Linked DNA regions of Homo sapiens. Changing the gene in region 1 together with any one later gene gives a genetic interaction. Each region holds a gene or a part of one and is shown on either strand. Other genes may lie near its edges.

Region 1 (4,143 bases):
AAAATTATCCCTGGGCAAACAAATACACAAAGATAAAAGAGCAAAAATCCTACCCACAGGCAACTATAAGATAGAAAAAAATAGTTTGATTAACGACTTGAAGTGCTGAACAAACATTTAAGAACTTTGGCAGAAATTTCTGAAAATTCTAGTCCAACCGCGAATCAAGAAACACAGGTAACACTATGTTCCGTTACTGGGTTAGAGAACAGAACAGTTGGCTAGTTTGGCTAACTCATAGAAAACAAGCAAACCAACCATGCTCTGGTCCAACAATCATCAGAGCACGAGTTTCTCCTACTCAGAGTCGGTCCCATGGGGGAAAAAAAAGCCACACAGGAGCGGGATCTGTAGTTAAGGAAGATAATTAGAGGACGATTTTCCTTTTTTTATTTCTCTGTATTTTGTAAAGCAACCACCGAGGTAGGGGCGGGGAGGGAGTGGTTAATATTGCGGATATTAAGATATAAATAAAGGCAGATGAAATGAAGTTAGACTTTCACAAAGAACGAAAAACCTACGAATGCTCTTGGCCTCATTAACAAGGAACATAAGCAGTTCCAGATGAGGAACCCATAACAAACTTCAAATAACGAAACTGTAGGGAGCAAGGGAGTCCGTGAGAGTATTTTAAGAAACTGGGACCCAGGAAGACTAAGTTAACGGATGGGATATCATGCTGTCTATATTTCTTTACACACTGCTATGCTTTATTAATTAGGTTACATTATAATGTTAAATAACTAGAAGCGCTGGGCATTTAAAGTTCTTCCAGACCGCCCTAACCACTCAAATTATCCTAATTAGCAATTTTTTTTAAGTTAAAGACTATTTCAATCGCAATGGGTCGGTTTCTATTTCAAAGATGTAAAGGAGTCAACATTCTGGCACTTCCTCTTGGCCGGCAGGACGAGGTTGACAAAGTCGGCCAGACAAGGTAGGGTTATGGGGGCTGCCCAGTCCCGTGGGTCTCTAGGCAGTGTGTTCTCTCTTCCGAGGTGGGGGTGTCCCCGGCGCGAGGAGCTAGCTGTGGTCACCGAAGCCCACGACCAAAGCGGGGGCCCCCAGCGCTTGGGGCCGCCTTGCCTCGGCCCAGCCGCGCACCTGGACCCCTAAGGCAGCCCCCTTCCCGGCGCTCCGCTGTCCCGCGGCCCCGCAGCACCGCCCAGCCCGCGCCAGACCCGCCTCCAGCCGCAGGGAACTACCTACCGTGCGCCGGCCCCTGGGCTGAAAGGCCTCTGACTACGGGCTATGTAACAGCGCCACCAACGAGCGGGACGGACAGAGCGACTCCTTCCGACTTCCGGAGGAAGCGGAACGCTACCGGAAATCGCGGGGAGGGTCAAAGGAGACCCGGTCTCCGAGGCTCATGGCGATGCTGGTCCTAGTACCCGGACGAGTTATGCGGCCTCTGGGTGGCCAACTTTGGCGCTTCTTGCCTCGCGGACTCGAGTTTTGGGGCCCAGCCGAGGGGACTGCGAGAGTCTTGCTGAGGCAGTTCTGCGCGCGGCAAGCGGAGGCGTGGCGTGCCTCGGGGCGCCCTGGCTATTGCCTGGGAACCCGGCCCCTCAGCACTGCGAGGCCGCCACCCCCGTGGTCGCAGAAGGGCCCCGGAGACTCCACGCGCCCCTCGAAGCCCGGGGTGAGTGCACACCTGGAACCCTTCTGGTGCTCGTCGCGGCTGTCGGCCAGCCCAGCGGCCACATCCCACTTGGTCGTAACCTCAGACACTACTCCGCCTCCCCTAAAGTTGTCCTTAGCTTGCGCGCCTTACCTGGGTCATGGAATTTCATCCTACATTTCCCGTGCCTTGCGGGTAGTCCCAGTTCTCCACAGAGAACTTGAGACTTTACACCCTCTCCACGTGGCTGGATGCCCCGACTTGGATTTTATGTTAGCGTTTCCATCAAAAAAAAAAAAAAAATTAAGTTTCAGGTTTTCTTAAGGGTATGAACCTAAAGTTTACCGTGATTGAGAAGTCAGAGGACTTTTATAATTTGTCACTTGAGCCCCATCCAGAGTTCCATGTATACGTTGAAATTGAAACAAAAAGTGGAACTTAGTTATGTGTGGATCTGCCTTTTTCTTGGGGTTCTCTCGAGTTCTAATTCTGACCCAGAAATAACTTGAGAGCCACTACCCTGTGGTAAGAGAAGTGGGTTTTTGGAGCTACGGGAAGGTTAATGAGTTAGGCCTAGTCTAGTTGGCCAACATCATCTTCATTTGGGGAGTTGAATAAGGGTACAAAGAAATAATGGGTGTAATTTGCAAGAAGCTCCACTTTTAGATTCCTCTTCTACTTTGGCATTGTTACTTCTGGAAGCCAGAGTTAAGTTAACCTCCCAAATTTCGTTTGGTCTATTTATCTCAGTATCAGCATAAGCAGATAATTGTTTTTTGTGTGTGTGTTTTTGGATTTTGGTTTTTGTTTTGAGACGGAGTTTTGCTCTTTTGCCCAGGCTGGAGTGCAGTGGCCCTATCTCGGCCCACTGCAACGTCCGCCTCCCGGGTTCAAGCGATTCTCCTGCCTCAGCCTCCCGTGTAGCTGGGTTTAGAGGGGTCCGCTACCACGCCCGGCTAATTTTTGTATTTTCAGTGGAGATGGGGTTTCACCATGTTGGCCATGCTGGTCTCAAACTCCCGACCTCAGGTGATCCACCCGCCTCCGCCTCCCAAAGTGCTGGGATTACAGGCGTGACCCACCGCGCCCGGCCATAATTGGTTTTAAAGTCATTACTGGAGCTAGGGTCACACATAGTAACAATCGTGGTACTTGAGCTTTTTTTTTTTTTTTTTTTTTTTTTTATTTACATGAAGAGAACTGACTTAGGGAACTTTCCCCTGGAGATGAATGCCTTTGTAGTTCAGATCCCAGACCTAACTGCATCCACAGAAACTTTGAGCATTTTCTCATCCCTGAAACATTTTGCACATTTAACATCATGGCCTGTGTGTATGTATATTAAAAACTACTTTAATAAGTTTGTATGGTTAAATGTTTGCATCTTACTAGAATTTTTATGTTTGAAATCCCTGCCCCAGTAGCCTGTTTCCTGGAAGTCTTTAGCAATCACATTTGCTATTGGAGGAGCTTTACTGGCTGGAATGAAGCACGTCAAGAAAGAAAAGGCAGAGAGTAAGTAGATTATCATCTGCTCAGCCCTGTATAAAGGTCTTCCTGGCTATGGACTAGCACCTTTTTTGTTGTTTTTTAGCTTTTTGTTTTGAAACAACTTTAGATTTACCAAAAAATTGCAAAGATAGCATAGGTTCTACATACCTTTCACCCAGCTTCCCCTAATATTAACATCTTGTATAACCATGACACATTTTTCATGACTAAGAAATTTTAAATGGCACACAACTATTAAATTACAGATTGTATTTGGATTTCACTTGTTTTTCTATCAATGTCTTTTATTTGTTCCAGGATCCAAGCTAGGATACCACTGCATAACAATGTTAAAAGATATACTGTGGATAGATTTGACTGGGCAAGATGAAATCTGGAGGGTACGAAGATGAGTAAGATGTAGTCGAGCCTTTGAGGTGCACACGGAAGGGAAACAGACACAGAAGTAAAGTATTTTACTAGATGCGATTCTGCCAGGCCAGAAGGAAGCTTACCATGTTGTGAGAGCAAAAGCAAGTCCCAGCCTTGAGATTTGAGAAGGCTTCCTAGAGATCAGGCAAGGAGCATAGTGCGAGTAGATACTGCATGCCCTCTGTGGATGAGGGGGAGGTGAAAAGAGCCTGGTCAGGAAATGCCAGGAACTGCTCTGGATTAGCATCTTGAAATATTTAGAAATTATTTATAAGAACTTTGCATTTTAGTGAATATCCTAGGACTTTTAAGATTTGGTTTAGAGGTTTTAGGTAAATCTTTAAAGTATTGCTTAAATCTTTCCATTCTTTGGAGTCTCTTTTGATAACATTATATACAAAGGTTAATGATTAAATCTGGGAATTCATAGGCTTTAGGAACTTAGCAGTGTTAAGTTTTGTACTGACATACATATATATGAGACTCTTTGGCATAATAAGTAGTATTGGGTAAGATTTTCATAGTCTAATAAGCAGTAAGTTTCTTTAGTTTCACAAAGAAACAAAAGCTAGGAAAGTTGTGGCGGGAAAATTCTAGAA
Region 2 (3,500 bases), on another chromosome or scaffold:
AGAGGTGAAAACTAACTTGAAAATACAATCCATTTACAACTTCACAATCACCTGCATTAGTGAAAACTATTGGTTAAAATGATGGTCACTGACTCTACTCATATTTGTTAATATCAATTTTAAACTATGATTTATTTTTAAATAATTTGTTTATCAAAGAACATTTCTAAAACTGAGAAAAATATCAAGTCTTATAATCTCACCACCTATTTCTTTTCTTTGCATACATGTTTGACATAATTGGGACCATACTTTATAGAGTGTCATATCCTTTTTTCACTTATTATATGGTTAGCATATTAGTATGTCACTAAAATTCTTCTGAAACATCTAAGATGACTGTATATTATTTCCATTCTATGAATTTTCCATGATTTCTCTAATTTTTATTGAACATTAAGGTTCTAATTTTTGCTAAATACTGCTGCAGTGAACATCTTTGAACACGAATATCTTTCGACATCTCTGATTTCTTTAATAAAGATTCCTAGAAATGGAATTACAAGCTCAAAAGGCATGCATAACTTTTTTTAAAAGCTTGTTAATAAATACTGCCAAAGTGCTTTCCAGAAAAGTTTTACTCATTTACATTCCCACTATCAATATGAGTAACCATCTTACCATCTTACCACCAATCTTTATTATCAATGAGTATTAGTATTTTCATCAAATCCTTAAGCTTCATATCATAACACTATACCTATAATCAAACACTCTCACAATATAATCAATAATAACTTTCTGTAAACATTAAGTTTAAATGAAGGCAAAGGGCCATAATTAATGACAGTCCCAAGACAGGGCCAGTCCCAATATCCAAATCCAGAGCAGCATGGAAAAGTGACCCCCAACTCCAAAAAAAAAGTAATAGTGCTTTTCAGTACTCTGAGTCAAAACAAAGGTCAAGTCCTAGTTTTGCTACTCACGCATGCGCGTTCTCGCTCTCTCTATACGTATATACAAAAAGTATATATATATACACACACATATGTGTATATATATGTGTGTGTATATATATATTCCATCTCAAAATATATAAATATATAATTTATAAATATATATAATACATAATATATATAAATATATATATATATATATATATATATATATATATATATATATATATATAAAATATATATATTTTTTGAGATGGAGTTTCACTCTTGTCACCCAGGCTGGAGTGCAATGGCGCAATCTTGGCTCATGGCAACCTCCGACTCCCGGGTTCAAGCAATTCTCCTGCCTCAGCCTCCCGAGTAACTGGGACTATAGGCGTGTGTGTGCCACCACGCCTGGCAAATTTTTGTATTTTTAGTAGAGACAGGGTTTCGCCATGTTGGCCAGGCTGGTCTCGAACTCCTGACCTCAGGTGATCCACCTGCCTCAGCCTCCCAGAGTGTTGGGATTACAGGCATGAGCCACCGCACCCGGCCCGGTAGCTCTATATTTTTATTAATAATTACATTACTTCTCTAAGCTTCAGTTTCGGCATTTGTAAAATGGGGACGGGGATAACATAATATCCCTTTTCTAACAAAGAGCAGTTACAGGCACAAAAAAGATAATATAAACACTTGGAAGTGTTTCTTGTTACTCAGCAGATCAATTCACATAATAGCTTAAAAACAGCATCCTAAAGTCCTTCTCTCAATACAGTATGTAGGTGCACTAATTTACAAAACACAACAGAAATTAACAAATTTCATGATCCAGACATGAAAATGAGTCTCACTCTTTTATGACCACTCCATCAAATCATTGCTTATTACATCATATTAACATCCTGAATGTCTTATGCCCTGAATGCCATTAGAGGTTGGCATCCCTTATCTAAAATGCTTGGGACCAGAAGTGTTTCAGACTCTGGATTTTCTTTGAATTTTGGAATATTTTCATATATATCATGCAGTATCCTGGGGATAAGACACAAGTCTAAACACGCAATTCACTTATATTTCATATACACTTTACACACATAGCCTGAAGGTAATTTTATACTAACTTTTTTTTTCTTTTTTGAGGCAGGGTCTCCCTCTGTCATCCAGGCTGGAGTGCAGGAGCACAATCATGGCTCACTGCAGCCTTGACACCCCGGGCTCAAACGATCCTCCTGCCTCGGCCTCCCAAGTAGCTGGGACTACAGGCACACACCACCACACCAAGCTAATTGTTTTGATTTTTAGTAGAGACAAGGTCTTGCTGTGTTGCCCAGGCTAGTCTCTAACTCCTGAACTCAAGCAATCCTCCCACCTTGGCCTCCCAGGATTGCTGGTTATGAGCCACCTCACCCAGCCAGTATTTTTAATAATTTTATGCATGAAATAAAGTTTTAACTGCAACCTGTCACATGAGGTCAGGCATAGAATTTTCCAATTGTGGCATCATGTCAGTTCGAAAAGTTTTGAATTTTGAAGGATTTTTGATTTTGATTTTTTTTTTTTTTTGAGACAGTCTTGCTCTGTTGCCCAGGCTGGAGTACAGTGGTGTGATCATGGCTCACAGCAGCCTCAGCCCCCTGGGCTCAAGCAATCCTCCTACCTCAGCCTGGAACTACAGATGTGCGCCACCATGCCTGGCTAATATTTTTGTAGAGACAGGGTTTCATTATTTTGCCCAGGCTGCTCTTGAACTCCCAAGCTCAAGCAATCCACTCATCTTGGCCTCCCAAAGTGCTGGGATTAAAGGTGTGAGCCAGCAAATCTGGCCCAGATTTTGAATATTTTGAGTAGGGATGCTCAGCCTGGACCTGCATCTCTCCAGAAGCACTACAGTACTTACAAGGTACTTACATATATTGTTTCATTTAGTCCTCACTAAGGACTATGTGAGATTGGCATTACTGTCCCCATTTTGCAGACTGTCCAGCTTACAGACTGACAAAGCCAATAATCAAATCCAAGCGGGTCTGCCCAAAGCCCCATGTCACACTGCTTAAAATTCAAGTCTGCACTTCAGTTCTTCGTTAGTCTCCTTTATGTCAGTAACTAAGGTTCAGATTAAATACTCGCTTTATTTTCAAAAGAAAACCATTCCTTCAAACAATTTTCTACCAATTTCTCTGCTGAAATGGTACTTATTTATAACACAGTACCTTAAAATGAGTCCATAAGGAACTGGAAAATGTTATTTTTTTTGAAGTTTTACACATTCAGTACACTTTGCATCAATAATAAAAGTATATTCATAAAAGTATACTCACGTATAGGATATTAAGAATCTAACACTGCTTATATTTAGGCATAAATGTGACATAATATTCCACTTATTTCACAAGCAATTACTATAACTTAATTCCAATAGTTATTCTAATACCTTCTTGTTCTTTCTAGAGTTTCGGGTTTGTTTTTTAAGTGGTTTCTCCCATTTTTCTCACTTTCAATTACATAAAACTGTATTCTACTTTCAGTCCAAATTTTGTGTTGCCTATATTAAATCCATTTCCCCAATATATCTAGACTGCTGCCAACTAGAGTTAATAAATTTTGAATGACTGCTCAGGA

Evidence for each region. A genetic interaction does not mean that the proteins touch.
Region 2: changes in SCO1 (region 1) and MAPKAP1 together harm fitness more than expected from each alone (negative genetic interaction), as found in Homo sapiens cells (one large-scale study listed by BioGRID).

What each region holds. Positions count from the first base shown.
Region 1 is NC_000017.11:10,694,734-10,698,876, reverse strand, and holds the start of SCO1 (protein SCO1 homolog, mitochondrial), read left to right. Parts: upstream 1-1,343; 5' UTR 1,344-1,369; coding exon 1,370-1,642; intron 1,643-3,045; coding exon 3,046-3,136; intron 3,137-4,143. UniProt on the Homo sapiens protein: Copper metallochaperone essential for the maturation of cytochrome c oxidase subunit II (MT-CO2/COX2). Not required for the synthesis of MT-CO2/COX2 but plays a crucial role in stabilizing MT-CO2/COX2 during its subsequent maturation.
Region 2 is NC_000009.12:125,697,209-125,700,708, forward strand, and holds part of MAPKAP1 (target of rapamycin complex 2 subunit MAPKAP1), read right to left. Parts: intron 1-3,500. UniProt on the Homo sapiens protein: Component of the mechanistic target of rapamycin complex 2 (mTORC2), which transduces signals from growth factors to pathways involved in proliferation, cytoskeletal organization, lipogenesis and anabolic output.